Regions from separate parts of the Homo sapiens genome. Here region 1 is linked to region 2. Evidence: fine-mapped expression QTL. Tissue or cell type: whole blood. Region 2 holds a variant in brackets; the other region holds the start of a gene. All regions are shown on one strand. Distances are between the middles of the regions.

What was found. PIP is the estimated chance that this variant, and not a neighbour inherited with it, causes the effect.
Region 1: TSPAN33 starts here. The variant in region 2 is fine-mapped to the expression of TSPAN33 in whole blood (INTERVAL, PIP 0.98).

The regions. Positions count from the first base shown.
Region 1 is chr7:129,140,843-129,148,948 of GRCh38, forward strand. TSPAN33 (tetraspanin 33) reads left to right here and starts at 3,865. Exons shown (of 8, transcript NM_178562.5): 1 at 3,865-4,240. The coding sequence starts at 4,139. RefSeq lists a silencer at 3,778-3,987 and an enhancer at 6,850-6,899.
Region 2 is chr7:129,114,354-129,122,459 of GRCh38, forward strand. It overlaps the pseudogene CYCSP20. Among named protein-coding and RNA genes, the nearest start is that of TSPAN33, 26 kb to the right of the region's middle. RefSeq lists an enhancer at 7,882-8,051. The variant C/T (reference allele first, on the strand shown) is at 4,726.

The DNA.
Region 1 (8,106 bases), 26 kb after region 2:
CAACAACACAGCTGATTTTACTTTTATATTTTTTCATCTCTGTTGAAATTGGCCCATATTTCTTACTGTGAATATGTTTATATTGTTAAAATCTTACATACTATTACATAAGTTTTTTGGGTTCCATTTTTTGTTTGTTTGTTTTCTTTTGTTTTTTTTGTGTGTGTTTTTGGAGACAGAATTTCTGTCACCCTGGCTGGAGTGCAGTGGTGCAATCTTGGCTCACTGCAACCTCCACCTCCTGGGTTCAAGCAGTTCTTGTGCTTCGGCCTCCCAAGTAGTTGAGATTACAGGTGCACACCACCACGCCCAGCGAAGTTTTGTATTTTTAGTAGGGATAGAGTTTTGCCATGTTGGCCAGGCTGGTCTCAAACTCCTGGCCTCAAGTCAGCTGCCCACCTTGGCCTCCCAAAGTGCTGGGATTACAGGCATGAGCCACCACTTCTGCTTTGAATTCCATTTTAAATGGCCACATTATATATTCCACATAACTGAAATACCTTTTCCATTGAATTCCATTTTAAATGGCCACATTATGTATTCCAAAGAACTGAATACCTTTTCCAAGGACTTGAAATAAGTTGAAACTATTCACTGATTGTCAGATACTCTGTATACTTTATTCTACAACCTGATTTTTGCACCTCATATGTCATGGACCTTTTTGCAAGTCAGTACATATGTTTTCTATGTTATTTTAAATGGCTGCGTAGCATTCTATAGTAAAGATACATTTTTCCAATTTTTAAATTCTTTTTGATTTTTCAATTTGTGTAATTTTTTCATTTTGAATCATTAATACACTTTATGCTGCAAAGAAAAAAAAACAAAAAAAAAACAAAGAATAAAATGGCACACAGTGAAAAGTCTCTCTCCTCTCTTTTCAGTTCTCATCACCATCCCAGTATGTAACCTCCTTTCTTAATGTCTTACGTTTCCTTCCAGAGTTTATTTAGGCAGAGGGAAGCAAATATAAATGTTATTCCTTATTTTTGTTTTCTCTCTTTCTCTTTAACCAGAATGTGATATATTGTATCCACTGTCCCACTTGTTGCTTTTTTTTTTTTTTTTTTTTTGAGACGGAGTCTTGCTCTGCCGCCCAGGCTGGAGTGCAGTGGTGCGATCTCGGCTCACTGCAACCTTCGCCTCCCAGGTTCATGCCATTCTCCTTCCTCAGCCTCCCGAGTAGCTGGGACTACAGGTGCCCGCCACCACACCCGGCTAATTTTTTTGTATTTTTAGTAGAGACAGGGTTTCACCGTGTTAGCCAGGATGGTCTTGATCTCCTGACCTCGTGATCTGGCTGCCTCGGCCTCCCAAAGTGCTGGGATTACAGGCATGAGCCACCCCGGCCTCATTTTGCTTTTTAAACGTAATGAGTTAACTTGGAGATCGTTCCAACTCAGTACAGAGAGAGTTTCCTAATTCTTTGTTCTATAGCTGCATGGCTTCCTACTTTGTGATGCCGTCCGTGACTTCCACATGAGGGACATTGTGGTCATCACTTTGAAGGCTAATCCCATCTCTACCTGTTAATTCCAAAACCTCATTCCAGCCATTATCCACCTTAATCCCTCTTGACTGTTTTGTTTTGTTTTGTTTTGTTTTGTTTCCTACGAACATGTTAGGTCTCTTATATGCTAACAGAGAACTTTCCCTTCACTCTGAAGTCCCTTAAGGCTCCCATAACCTTCAAAGCCAGACAGAGATGTCCACAGTTTCGTTCACAGCTTCCATTTCACCACCCATTCCTTCCTTGACACTGTGATATTCCTTCTTCTTCCCGTCTCAATTAAAAATGATCTCTTGGCTGGGCACAGTGGCTCATGCCTGTAATCCCAGCACTTTGGGAGGCCCATGCAGGTGGATCACCTAAGGTCAGGAGTTCAGACCATCCTGGCCAGCATGGTGAGACCCCATCTCTACTAAAAATACAAAAACTAGCCAGGCATGGTGGCGGGCGCCTGTAATCCCAGCTACTTGGGAGACTGAGGCAGGAGAATCGCTTGAACCAGGGAGGCGGAGGTTGCAGTGAGCTGAGATCAGGCCACTGCACTCCAGCCTGGGCGACAGAGTGAGACTCCGTTTCAAAAAAATAAAACTGATTTCTGGAAGATCATCTAATAGAAACATTCAGCATCTTGGTCTATTTCTCTATCCTCCCCGCACTAACATCTGAAAATGGCACCTACCTATTCACTCATTAACCTCTTGGAAAATGACTTCTGCCCACCCTACCTGCTTTATACTAAAACTGATCTCCAGTGTCACTTAACCTGTTAAGGGCCAGTAATCTCCCAGTAACCTGGCTGTGACTGCCTTCTTTAACCTCCACTCTTGGTGCTCCTGTTATGCCTGCTTGTCACCACAGCCTAGCCCTAGAGATTCTATCTTTCCAATGCCTTCCCTTCTATCCTCTCCTAACCATCTATTATTCTGTCTATTACTCCTAAATCAGTTCCTGATTTCTGATTATCTGGATGATGAGCAGCATGCTTCTAACAAATCTTTCTCTCTCCAGCCTCTTTCCCACTCCAACTGAAAACCATGGGTTTTCCATCATCCTTTTCTCCAAAACTCTTATTTCCAAGTCAATTAAGCACTAACTCCCCAATCTGATATTCAATTACTTCCGCAGTTTTAACACAATTCCACATGTAACGGCATCGGTCAGCATTATGTCCCACTGCTATTCCAAGCATACCCTGTGCTCCAGCCACAGCAGTCTGCTTATTTTGCACGAAACACATGGCGTGCTTTTGCACCTCCAGGCTTTGGTTCACCCCCTTTTTTTTTAATCCACCTGGATTATGTTTCCCCTCCGTCTCTACTATTCTAAATCCCATCCTCCCCTAATTTCACTTGCCACGCTATCTTCACTAACCTTCTACCAAACGTATTATAATTATTTGTGCGGTTATCATATTTCCACACTGGATTCTTAATTCTGCTAAAACGAAATACTGTAATGCCTTTGATGAGCCTTCCATGTGCCAGCCATGTGCTAAGTGAGCTACATGCATTATCTCATTTAATCCTCAAATCGCCATCTAGGTCAGGACTCTCCCATTTAACATTAAACAAACTGAGGCTCCGAGAGATTAAGTAGCTTGCAGCTTTCACGCAGCTAATTATGGTGGAATCAGATTCCCTCCCCGAGGTTCAACTTGTATTAGTTAGGGTAGCCAGCATAATATATTCGCCAGCTACGCTGCACTCAACCTGTGTGTGCCGGATCAGCATGTTAAAAACGGTGTCTGCAAGTAGACCAAGGGAAGAGGGGCTGCGGGGGCGGGAATTGAGACAGCAATGAATTAGGATGGCGGGATTGGCGGTGATGTTTCCAAATTTCCACTGTTGGGTTGTAGAGCTTCTGAAATAAGCATTTAAAATGTATAGTTACTAAACAAGATTGCATCTACCCTTGGTCTAATTGTTATGTGTAGGTTAGTTTTGTCTCCCTGATTTTATTGTCATCCCCCAGGGATTGTTTCTGTTCTCCCGCGTTCCCAGAGCTTTCGGCGCATTGCTCAACACACGGTGTGCGTACTTGTTGATTTTAATGTATGTGTGTTTGCATATGTGCACAGCAGCTGGGCGGAGGACGTGGGTGTGGGATGCACTGTGCATTCCTTCTCCTCACTCTTGTTCCTTTGAGCAGCTGCAGCCTGGATGCTTTCCCTTAGGGGTAGGGGAGAGGCAGAACCGCTGACCCTTTAACAAGTTATCCCTCACAGAACAGGTGTCTCCCCCGACTCTCGGTGGAGAGGGATGGCTGGATACTTAGTGACATCAGCCACGAGCCAATGGGAAGTCGGGCTCCAGCCGTCGCGCCAATGAGCGGCCGGGGGCGGGCCGGGTTTCCTGGGCGCCTGGCTGGCCGGGCTGGTCCTGCGGCCGCGGGTGAGTCTCGTCCGCTCGCGCTGCCCACCGCGGCTCCAGCAGCTCCAGGCGCGGTTCCCCGGCCCGCGCCGCTCCCGGCCCCCCGGCTCGGGCGCCTCCCGCCGCAGCGCAGGCTCCCCCGCCGGCCGGGCTCCTGCGCGGCGCGGCTCGGCTCATGCCCCCGGGCGCGGGGCACACAGGCCGGCCGGCAGCCGCTGGGAAATAGGCCCCCGGGGGCGGTGGCGGCGGCGGGGCCATGGCGCGGAGACCCCGGGCGCCGGCCGCCTCCGGGGAGGAGTTCTCCTTCGTCAGCCCGCTGGTGAAATACCTGCTCTTCTTCTTCAACATGCTCTTCTGGGTGAGTCTCGGGGTCGAGGGCACCTGGGCGGCGGGGTCCCCCCGCGGGGTGGAAGGGTGGCCCGGGGTGCCCCACGCGCGGGAGCCGCACTGCCGAGTTTTCTGGGCTGACGGCACTTTGGGGGAATTTATCCTGGGGAGGGACACCCCGGGGACGCCGCGTCTGCAGGGGGCGTTGTAGGGAGGAGGGTATGCCAGGGAATCAGTAAAGACTGATGGGTATTCTCGGGGCGTCGGAGGAGGGTCTGTGTTAGGCTAGAAATGTGGGTTTGAGGGAGCCTGTTGGCCCAAGGCGGACCCACTGACACATTCATGATGGGGGTCGGGGGTGGCGGCTGACTTTCAGGCCTGGGGGCCTGGAGGCCCGGCTGGCAAAGAAAGAAGAGGAAGGAAAAACCCAAACCTCTCTCTCCACCACCTCAGAGAGGATGGGTTACTGGCATCATCTCTTCCTTTTGCAGGCCTCATCTACCCCCACCTCCACCCCCCCAAAGTCTAGGAAGAATGGCCTCCAGGTGCAGATGTCTTTCCCATCCCAGCACTGCCCCAAACTTTGTCCCCTCCCTGCCACCCTTCTCAGGACCAGACTTCACCCCTGGAGCCTGGCAATCACCAGTGTCTTTAAACAGGACCCCGTGTTGGGCCGGAGGGCCAGGGGTCCTTTCAGAATCTTCTGCTTGGGGTGGAAAAAGTATTGGGCTGGGACTCCGGACACCTGGATTCCCATCCCACTCTGCCGTTCATTGTTGACTTGACCGACCTAAGCATGTATGTTCATGTCTGCAGGCCTTGACTCCCTCCCCCACAAATCCAACCCAGTGTGATCAGGGGTGGCAGAAAGACTGCTGAAGCTGAGAATTGAGCTGAACCAGATCATGCAATGCCAGCTCGACCCTGTTTCCTGGCTAGAGAGTCCTGGAGGTCCTGGGGTGTGAGAACATAGGGACATCCTTCCCCCATTCACCTCCTCTTCTGGCTCCTACCACACCAGAGCTGCTGCTTCTGGAGCCCACCATCCTTGCCCACTTCAGCTGGAGACCTAAAGTTCAGACTTGCAGGAGGGAAGAATTGAGTCTAAAATATGTTTCCTAGGGGAGGGAGCAGAACAGACATCTAAGCCATTTGCTGGAAAGGTTTCACAGGGCCCGTGGGGTGAGGTGCAGACACAAAGCCCATAAGTGCTGGCCTGTTGGGACAAATGAGAGAAATCCCATAGGGTGGTGATGACAGCGCACTCAGCCATCCTACTCCTGGGGAAAATGAAACTTGTGCTCCTATCAAATGCTCAGTTGTAAAACTGGAAAAAAATTTTAGAAGACATCTTGTCCAGCATCTGTGTTTATGTCTATAAAATGTAGAAAACTAAAGCACAGAGATGTTAAATGTTTTGTCCAAGGTCCAACAGCTGGTTAGCAGGCTTGGTCTGGTGACCTTTCTACTGAACCACAGTGCCGCTGGGGGAAGTCCTCAGCACAGATGGCTGCTGCTATAGCTGGGGTATGGGCAGTATTAGTAGTTAACCAGTCAACCCAAGTTCCCATAGTCTAGGTTCTGCTTCAGCTGGAGGTTAGGGAAAAACACAAGAAAATCCCTTACCACTCTACCAGTGCTGGGGGATGTACTAAGAGACTCCCCACTTAGGGGCAAGTATCAGTGAAGTCTCTGTGCTCACTGAGTGTGCCAGGCCAGTGACGTGACATCCTCGGAGCCAGCACTAGCATTTCAGGGACTTTAGGTCGTCACTCTGACTTCCTTTATCTGCCGAGACTGTCTCCCTTGGAGCCATTGGTACCTCACCCTTGTCTGTGCTCGCCAGTGACAACAGCTGGGTGCATCTGTTACACTTGTGTTCCTGGTCATTTTTTTTTTCTCGAGCTTCCCTACCCCCTACCTCCACCCTACCCCCCTTTTATCGGACAAACGACTTTGAGAGATCTCAGCCAGGAGAGAGTTTGGCTCCACAGACCCATTTACCTTGGTAAAAATGCTTCATTCAAGGTCAGAAGACGTGGGTGGCCAAGCTAGCACCACCCCAAATTAGAATAGAGCCCCTTCTTGGCCCTACAGTAGACTCATAAAAAATCAGAGGCTCTAGAAATAGCACACTGAAAGACAAGAGGCTCAGCATCTTTTTGGCACCAACTTACTGTGTGACCCTAAGCCAATGTATCTGTCTCTCTGACCTTAATCTTTCTCCTCTAAAGGAGAAACAATTTCTGCCTCAGTGAACTATTTAAGGATGAATGAATCATTTTGGGGACTGTTTTCTTTCTTCAAGACCTAGAGCTGGATCTAAGGATGAATCTCCCTGTGTCCTGATTGCCCTTCCTAGGGGACAGTACTTTTCAGGTGTTATTGAATGTCCCTTCTCCCCCAAACCCAGTGCTGCACAGGTATATTCATACAAGAGCAGCTGGAGAGAAAATGCTGCCTCCCCAGATCAGGGGGCCATCTTTCTTCCTAGCTCCTCTTCAGGGACTGGTTCCCATGCTTTCTTTTTTGTAGACTTCCACCATCCTAATCAAATTCTGCTCTTCTGCCCAGGAAGCACCTATGGATGAGATGATGGTCAGCCCACACCCTTTGCAGGCAGAGTGCATGCTCTGGCCGGCTTCTGGAGCTGCCGCATGGCAGTGGTTATTGTGTCTGTGCCTGGAACCCACTAGGAAGGTGTCCGGCATCCTCTGGGCTCTGAATAGTGGTGCTGGTGGTGATGGTGGCTACGTCTGCTGTTGCTCTAGAAGCCCTGACTCTTGGGGCATTTGGAGTCTGACTCAGAAAACTAATGAATTTTGGGGGACTGGGACCAGTTCCTACTGTTCATGTTTCAAATCTCACTTCCCCTTTGACCTGGGAGTTCTGATTTTCTTCCCAGAATCATGTTGCTGGGTTACTGACTGTGGGGATTCCATGGCCTGGAGTAGCTGCTCTAAGATCCTAGATGTTGCATTTAAATCAGTTAGGGTGGCTACAGAGCAGCTGCCTCTCCTCACCTCCCTCTGCAGGACAGCTCCGTGCAGATATTGGGGTGGTGCCTGCTTTCTCAGCTTGGCCATGTGTTGTCAGGAATATTCAGTGCCGCCCACCTCCTTCCTCGCTGGTCCTTTTCCCACTCAGGGCAGCAGTTGGCTGGCTTTTGAGTCAGGCAGAGCCCAGAAGCTCAGACCTCCAGCCCCTGTGTCTCAGCCCAGGCTTCCCTAGCAGCCATGCCTCAGGGCTCCCATGGCACCTTCTGTATTCTTCTATTGTCACATCCCTTACCTGTGCTGCAATTGTGTTTACTTCTCCGTCTCCCCCTCTAGACTTCGGGCTCTCGAGGGTGGGCACGGCCCTATTCACTTCTGGATCCCCAGTGCCCAGCTGTGTTTGGCATAAATTGGGTGCTTACTGAATGTTTATTGGATGGTGAGTGAGAGAGCAAACCCCACAGGGTAGAGGCTTGATGCCCATCCTCCCTTCCTCATGGACACTGGCCTGTCAAGATGCAGCTCAACCTGGGGTCCTTGAGCACTCTTGGTGATGAGGTACCCAACTGTGTTCTCCTCTGTGGTGGGTCTGGCGGCCTGGCAACCCTCCACTTAAGCCAGGTCAGAAACATGGCAGCCATCCCCTCCTCAGAGCCACACGTACTTACTGCCTACAGCATCTGGATTTTCTCACTTCCACTGCCACATATATGCACCCTTGTCCAGGTCTTCCCTAGGCTGAGCCAAGCCACCAGTGGGGCATCTTCTTCAAGAAATCCACTCTCCCATCCAGGACTACTGTATTGGAGTCCTTGGGCACTCAGAATCACCCAGGCCACTCTCAGCACCATTTCTTTTCGTCTGGCTCAAAAACCATGAGGAAGTAACCAGGCATCAAGCC
Region 2 (8,106 bases):
CCCCTCACAGTACATGCCAACCCCCATCCCCAGCAAGACACCTTATATGCAAAGCTATTTGGCCGGGCACGGTGGCTCACGCCTGTAATCCCAACACTTTGGGAGGCTGAGGCAGGCAGATCACCTGAGGTTAGGAGTTCAGGACCAGCCTGGCCAACATGGCAAAACCCTATCTCTACTAAAAATACAAAAATTAGCTAGGCGTGGTGGCAGATGCCTGTGATCCTAGCTACTAGGGCGGCTGAGGCAGGAGAATAGTTTGAACCCAGGAGGTGGAGGCTGCAGTGAGCTGAGATCACACCACTTCATTCCAGGCTGGCAATAGAGCGAGGCCTCATCTCAGAAAAAAAAAAAAGAAAGAAAGAAAGAAAAGAAAAGTTATTTTCTGGAAAGATGTACAAGACTTAAAGTGGTCACTGGGGATAAGGGTGGAGGAGAGGGACTGTCACTTTTTATACTTTTTATTATGTGCATGAACTACTTAAAATTTTTTTTAAAACAAAGTGAATCTTTAATGTTTATAAGAAAAAATGTGTATAGGAGAAAAGATAGGAAAGAAATATTCCAAATGCTAGCAAGTGACAGATGTATTGACAATGAAGTCATGCGTGATTATTTTCTTTTTTCAATTCTTTCCCAAATTTTTTGGTAAAGTGATGATATAATTTTATACCAAAGATAACTTAAAAAAATAGAACCATGTAAAAGCTAAAGAAACCCTTCAGAGATGTTTTTGGAAAGAAAAATTTAAATGAAATAAGCAAATAAATACATATGCTCCTCCCAAATGTATCATTTTGGGAAAAATATCTGGATTTCCATACCTTGTTTTGCATAAAGCAGGGCTGACCCAGACTCCCTCTGTCCTTTTGGTGCTGGCGGTCGTGATTGCTGCTGGCAAGTATAGGAATCAGAGAGCTGAGCAAATAACATTTTCTGTCATCCATGCTGGCCCAAGTCTGTTTCTGGGGTAATAAGCTGGGAAACAGCAGTGAGGTTTTAGAAGCATAGAGATGATGATAAAGCTCCTTGATAAGAGAAGTGAAGTTAGGAACAAAGCCTGCTTGACTGCTCCAGTGTTGCTGAACATAGTCTACCTGAATCTATTCTACAGGAATCTACTCAGCCACAGACCTACCTGCAGGGATGACCTTGGATTGCTGTTAGCAGATTCCCTCAGCATCAGCCCTCATATGCCTCTTTCCTCCTTCGTTAGTAATCTCTTATGTAGTCCCCATAAGACTCCCAACCCCTATGAGGCTTACCCTTAATCTCTAAACTCTGGACTAACAAAGGTTTCTGGTGATTCCCTCTCCTGAGCACTTGCCATGGCTTTTACCAAATCCATATCAGGGAGCAGAAAGGGTGAGTTGATGACTGGGTAGAAGATGACTAAAGTGACCATATTTCTAACAAACAAGTTTAAGTGTGGACCAGGCAGAGCCAGGCAAGATGAATGAGGGACTGGAAGAAAGCCAGCTCTTTCCTTTCTCTCCAGCACCAAGACTCAGCCCCAGGCTGTGGGAGTAGGAATAAGATAGTTAAGAGTGGTATTGTTTTCCCTTGGGACTCTCCATTGCTTTTAGAATTCCAAGCTTAAGAGATATTGCCTTATATTATTTGTTTATTCATGTTATTACTTCAGCTTGGCCACCATATTTTATACACCAGTGCAAATTGTTTCATAGTTTGCCTATGGTTGTGTGTTAATGCCAGTACAGGCCATCAAAATCCAGAGCATCTCAACATTTGAGGATGTCCCAGGGCTGGGTCTGACCCTTCTCTTTTTTTTTTTTTTTTTTTTTTCCTGAGACAGAATTTCACTCTTGTTGACCCAGGCTGGAGTGCAATGGCACAATCTCAGCTCACTGCAATCTGTGCCTCCAGGGTTCAAGAGATTCTCCTGCCTCAGCCTCCCAAGTAGCTGGGATTACTGGAATTAATTAGCCACCACGCCTGGCTAATTTTGTATTTTTAGTAGAAAGAGGGTTTCTCCATGTTGGTCAGGTTGGTCTTGAACTCCCGACCTCAGGTGATTCACTCGCCTTGGCCTCCCAAAGTGCTGGGATTACAGGTGTGAGCCACTGCACCTGGCCAGTCTGACCCTTCTAACCCTTACATTCAAAGAATCAAGCTGACTTCCAAGATGGGAGAATTGAGGAATGTTCCTGTTCACAGACATTCTCAACCTTGTGTAAGAGAATAGGATGGCAATGAGAACACATGGACACAGGGAGGGGAACATCACACACCAGGGCCTGCCAGTGGGTGGGGGACAGGGGGAGGGATAGCATTAGGACAAATACCTAATGCATGCGGGGCTTAAAACCTAAATGATGGGTTGATGGGTGCAGCAAACCACCATGGCACATGTACACCTATGTAACAAACCTGCACGTTCTGCACATGTATCCAGAACTTAAAGTATAATAAATAATAATAATAATAATAATAATTTAAAAATAAAATAGGTGAGTGGCAAAGAGTACTGGCCTGGGACCAAATTCAGAGCTGGCAAACTCCTGGAATAGAAAGTTGTCCCCTTGTAATATACATCCAGAAGCTCCTGAGATTTTCAGCTGGTTTCCTGCTATTAACCTGAATTTGGTTTTACTTGATGGATTCTGGTCCCTTTCTCTGGTCCTGTTTTAAGCTTGGGCCATGATGTCCTGGGGCTTGAGGGTGAGGAGCAGGAGCCTCTGTAAGGGGAATAGGAATGGTGTGTGGAGGGGCACAGGGCGGGTAAATCCAGAGGAGTTTTCAGAGGGTGTCAAGATTCCACGTTCCAGTTTCAGGCCTGTACAGAGCTAGGAGCATCTGAGGCTGGGTAAGGATTTAAGGAAAAAGAGAGAAGATCCCAGAAACAAAACAGCAAAATAACATTATGAAAGCTGGGGGACTGGCAAATGCAATGTGACATTTTGTTCTTTTTTTTAAATTGACATATAATAATTGTATATATTCATGGGGTACATAGAGATGTTTTGATACATATAATATACAGTGATTAGATAAGGGTAATTTGCATATCCATCATCTCATTTACCATTTCTCTTTTTTCTTTTTGAATTCTGGTGTATGAAATCTATTAAATTACGATACATATAAAAAATTCATGAGACATTTCTCTTTTGTAATAAATAACGCAGTGGCCAATTATTTCTCATGAGCAGCTTTTTTGAGATAAGCTATCAAGTCCGCCCTTTCTCCCTTCTTCTTAATGCCGCCAAAGATCATTTTTGTTCCAGGTATCTAATTCTTTGGATTCTCCAAATACTCTATCAGTGTGTCCTCTCCCCAGGTGATGCCTTTGTTCTTACTGGTGTCTGTGTAGCAGAATCCAATGGCACCTGTCTTCCACCCAAAGAGACCATGGAGGTTAGGCTCAGTCTTGTGCTTGCCTCCCTTTTCCGTGGTGTGGCACTGGGCACACTTCTGAACACAAATATTCGTGCTTTTCTCAACATCACCCATATTTAATTCTCTCTTTTGTCACTGGCACTGTGAAGGTTCCTACTCAGAAACCAGATGTCCTGCTCTCTCATTTTTCATTTCTTTGTGTTAAGAACATTCTATATCCATTTTTTAGCTACTTTTTTTTTAGACGGAGTCTTGCTCTGTTGCCAAGGCACACTCTCACCTGACTGCAATATCTGCCTCCTGGGTTCAAGCAATCCTCCTGCCTCAGCCTCCCTAGTAGCTGGGATTACAGGTGCATGCCACCCCACCCAGCTAACTTTTGTATTTTCAGTAGAGATGGGGTTTCGTCATGTTGGCCAGGCTGGTCTCGAACTCCTGACCTCAAGTGATCCGCCTGCCTCGGCCTCCCAAAGTCCTGGGATTACAGGCATGGGCCACTGTGCCTGGCCCGTTTTAGCTATTTGAAGCTATATATTGTTACATCCAGTCATCCTACAGTGGTATAGAACAGGGGTCCCCAGCCCCTGAGCCATGGTCGCATAACAACGGTCTATGGCCTGTTAGGAACCGGGCCACACAGCAGGAGGTAAGCAACAGGCTACTGAGTGAAGCTTTATCTGTATTTACAGCTGCTCCCCATTGCTCACATTACGGCCTGACCTCCGCCTCCTGTCAGATCAATGGCAGCATTAGATTCTCACAGGAGTGCGAACCCTATTGTGAACTGCACATGCCAGGCTCCTTATGAGAATCTAATGCCTGATGATCTGTCACTGTCTCCCATCACCCCCAGATGGGACTGTCTAGTTGCAGGAAAACAAACTTAGGGCTCCCACTGATTCCACATTATGGTGAGTTGTACGATTATTTCATTACATATTAATATTACGATGTAATAATAATAGCAATAAAGTGCATAATAAATGTAATGCGCTTGAATCATCCTGAAACCATCCCCCACTCCCTGGTCTGTGGAAAAATTGTCTTCCATGAAACCAGTCCCTGGTGCCAAAAATGTTGGGGACCACTGGTATAGAACTCTAGAACTTATTCCTTCTATCTAGCTGTAATTTTGTATCATTTAATAAACATCTCTCTAACTCCCACTTCCCTCTGCCCTTCAAGCCTCTAGTATCCTCTGTTTTACTTTTTACTTTTATGAAGTCAACTTTTCTTAGCTTCCACAAAGGAGTGAGAACATGCAGTATTTAACTTTCTGTTCCTGGCTTAATTCACTTAACATAATGTGCTCCAATTCTATCCGCATTACTTCAAATAACTGGATTTCATTCTTTTTTTAATAGC[C/T]GAATAGTGTTCTATTGTGTACGTATACCACATTCTCTTTATCCATTCATCTGTTATTGAACACCTAGGTTGAGTCCATATTTTGGCTATTGTGAATAGTGATGCAATAAACATAGGGGCACAGATGTCTCTTTGATATACTGATTTCTTTCCCTTTGAATAAATGCCCAGTAGTGGGATTGCTGTATCATATGGTAGTTCTATTTGTAGTTTTTTGAGGAACCTCCAACTCTTCTCCATAGTGGCTGTACTAGTTTACATTCCCACCAACAGTGAATAAGAGTTCCATTTTTCCACATCCTCACCAGCATTTGTTATTTTTTTGTGTTTCTGATAATAGCATCCTAACCAGAGTGAGATGATACTTCTTGATGGTTTTGATTTGTGTTTCCCTGATGATTAGTAATATTGAGCATTATTTTATATATTTGTTGACCATCCATTTGTATGTCTTCTTTTGAGAAATATCTGTTCAGATCATTTGCCCTTTTATTTATTTATTTTATTTATTTTTATTTTTTTTGAGACAGGCTTGCTCTGTCACCCAGGCTGGAGTACAGTGGCACGATCACAGCTCACTACAACCTCTGCCTCCCAGGTTGAAGCCATTCTCCTGCCTCAGCCTCCCGAGTAGCTGAGATTACACCCATGTGCCACCACCACACCCGGATAATTTTTTATATTTTTAGTAGAGAGGGGGTTTCACCATGTTGGCCAGGCTGGTCTCCAACTCCTGACCTCAAGTGATCCACCCTCCTGACCTCAAATGATCTGCCTGCCTTGGCCTCCCAAAGTGCTGGGATTACAGGTGTGAGCCACCATGCCTGGCCCATTTGCCCATTTTTTAAATTGAATTATTTGCTTTTTTGCTATTGAAGTGTTTGAATTCCTTGTATGTTCTAGATAATAATCCCTTGTTGGATGAATAGTTTACAAATATTTTCTCTCATTCTGTTGATTGTCTTTTCACTCTATTGATTATTTCCTTTGCTGTGTAGAAGCTTTTTAGTTTGATATAATCCCATTTGTTTATTGTTACTTTTGTTGCCTATGCTTTTGAAGTCTTATAAAATCTTTTCCCAGACCCATGTCCTGAAGCATTTCCCCATGTTTTCTTCTAGTAGTTTTATAGGGTTGGGTCTTACATTTAGGTCTTTGATCCACTTTGAGTTGATTTTTGTATAGGATGAAAGTCAGGAATCTAGTTTCATGCTTTTGCATATGAATATCCAGTTTTGCCTCAACCATTTATTGAAGAGACTATCAATAAGGGTTCTTGGCACCTTTGTCAAAAAACAGTTGGTTATAGATACATGGATTAATTTCTGGGTTCTCTATTGTTCCAGTGTTCTATGTGTTTGTTTTTATGCCAGCGCCATGCTGTTTTGCTTACTACAGCTTTGTAGGATATTTTAAAGTCTGGTAGTGTGATGCCTCCAGCTTTCTTTTTGCTCAAGATTGCTTTGACTATTTAGGGTCTTTTGTGGTTCCATATACATTTTAAGATTTTTTTTCTATTTCTATGAAGAATGTCGTTGGTATTTTGATAGGAATTGCATTAAATCTATAAATTTCTTTGTGTAGTAAGATTTTGTTCTGAATGCTAAAACTGTAGGTATAAATAGGATGGCACTGCTGGCCCAGAGGAAGGCCTGATTAGCCAGGGTGCCCCCTAATAGCTCTGACTTCACTAGTACCCAACCTTCTCTCAGTACTTTGAGGGATTAAGACAAAAATATCACATCATAAGTCTGATGCTGAAACAAGTTTGTTCCTTTAATGAGATAGTTTTTGACAAATTGGATCCAACATCTCCTGTTAAAATGGAAATACATATTTAGAGTCGTGGTAGGGCAGGTAGACAAGTAACAAGCCTGAGTGGCCATCACCACATTGGTATGAATTAATTTAGGAACAAAGAAAAACTTCCTGGGAGGATATGATCTATAATGGGATGGTTGGGGGGGGGGGTTGTTAGTGGTGGTGGTAATGGGTTATTTTAGTTTTGAATGTGTGTGTTGCAGGGAAGGAAAAAGGTTGGTGGAGAGTTCAGAGCCAAAGCCATGCTGAATGACAGGTGGAAGACAGTCTGATGGATCATAGTCACTGTTCTTAAAGAATACATAATTCAGGCTTGCATGAGACAAGATGAACCACTGACATCCTAATTTCTCAAAGTAGTCATTGGAAATGGAAAGAAGAGCCAGGATTTATTGGAGGGTATATTCACACAGAAGGGGTTCATGAAGGTGAGGGACCCTTTCACCTCCCCACTGGGCAGAAAGCACTTGCCAGAAGAAAGGGTTGCAAAAGAAGGTTGAACTCAGCAAGAAAAGTGCCTTGGGTCAGTCTCTGTACTGCTAAATAGGGCCTACCACCCTACCCTGCCAATCCCTACATAGGCCCTGTCTTCAGTAAACACTAGAGTTCGCTTACCTTCCATTCCAAGAACCAATCTGACATCTGCTGTATTAGTCTGTTTTCACACTGCTGATAAAGACATACCCGAGACTGGCTAATTTACAAAAGAAAGAGCTTTAATGGACTTACAGTTCCACATGGCTTGGGAAGCCTCACAATCATGGCGGAAGGCAAGGAGGAGCAAGTCACATCTTACATGGATGGCAGCAGGCACAGAGAGGGCTTGTGCAGGGAAACTCCTATTTTTAAAACCATCAGATCTCATGAGACTTATTCACTATCATGAGAACAGCATGGGAAAGACCTGCCCTCATGATTCAATTATCTCCCACCCAGTCCCTCCCACAACATGTGGGAATTCAAGATGAGATTTGGGTGGGAACACAGCCAAACCACATCATCTGCTGTGCCTCATCCCACAGATAGCAGAGCTTCCTCCTAATCTATCAAGAGTTCAGCATTTAGTGAGTGGTCAGGATCTCACCCTTCATTTAACCAACTAACCACCACCAACCAACCACCACCATCAGAGGTGGGCCTAAGGCAGGCCTTGGGGTCTCTGGGAAGTGGGCCATGCTCAGTCTACATCCCAATGTGCTATGGCTCCTGACACTCTGAGCAGGGGCTCTCCCTTGCACACACCAAAGGAATGACTGGGCTTAAAAAACGTGCCAACTTGCTTATAAATCAGTCTCCTCAGATTCTACAATTCACCGAGCCATAAAACCTCAGAGCTTCAAAGATGCTTAGAAAATATCAAGGCCAGGGTTCCCAGGAAGCCTCAATGCTGCCATTTTACAAAGGAAGAAACTGAAGTGCAGAGAGATTAAGGGGCTTGTCCAGGTCACACAGCTACTTAGTGGTAGATCTGTAACTAGAAAGGTTTCAGTTCACACTCAATGTTCTTTCCTCTAGAATCTAACCTCTGCCCCCTTGTTATTTTTGGCATGAGAGAGGAGG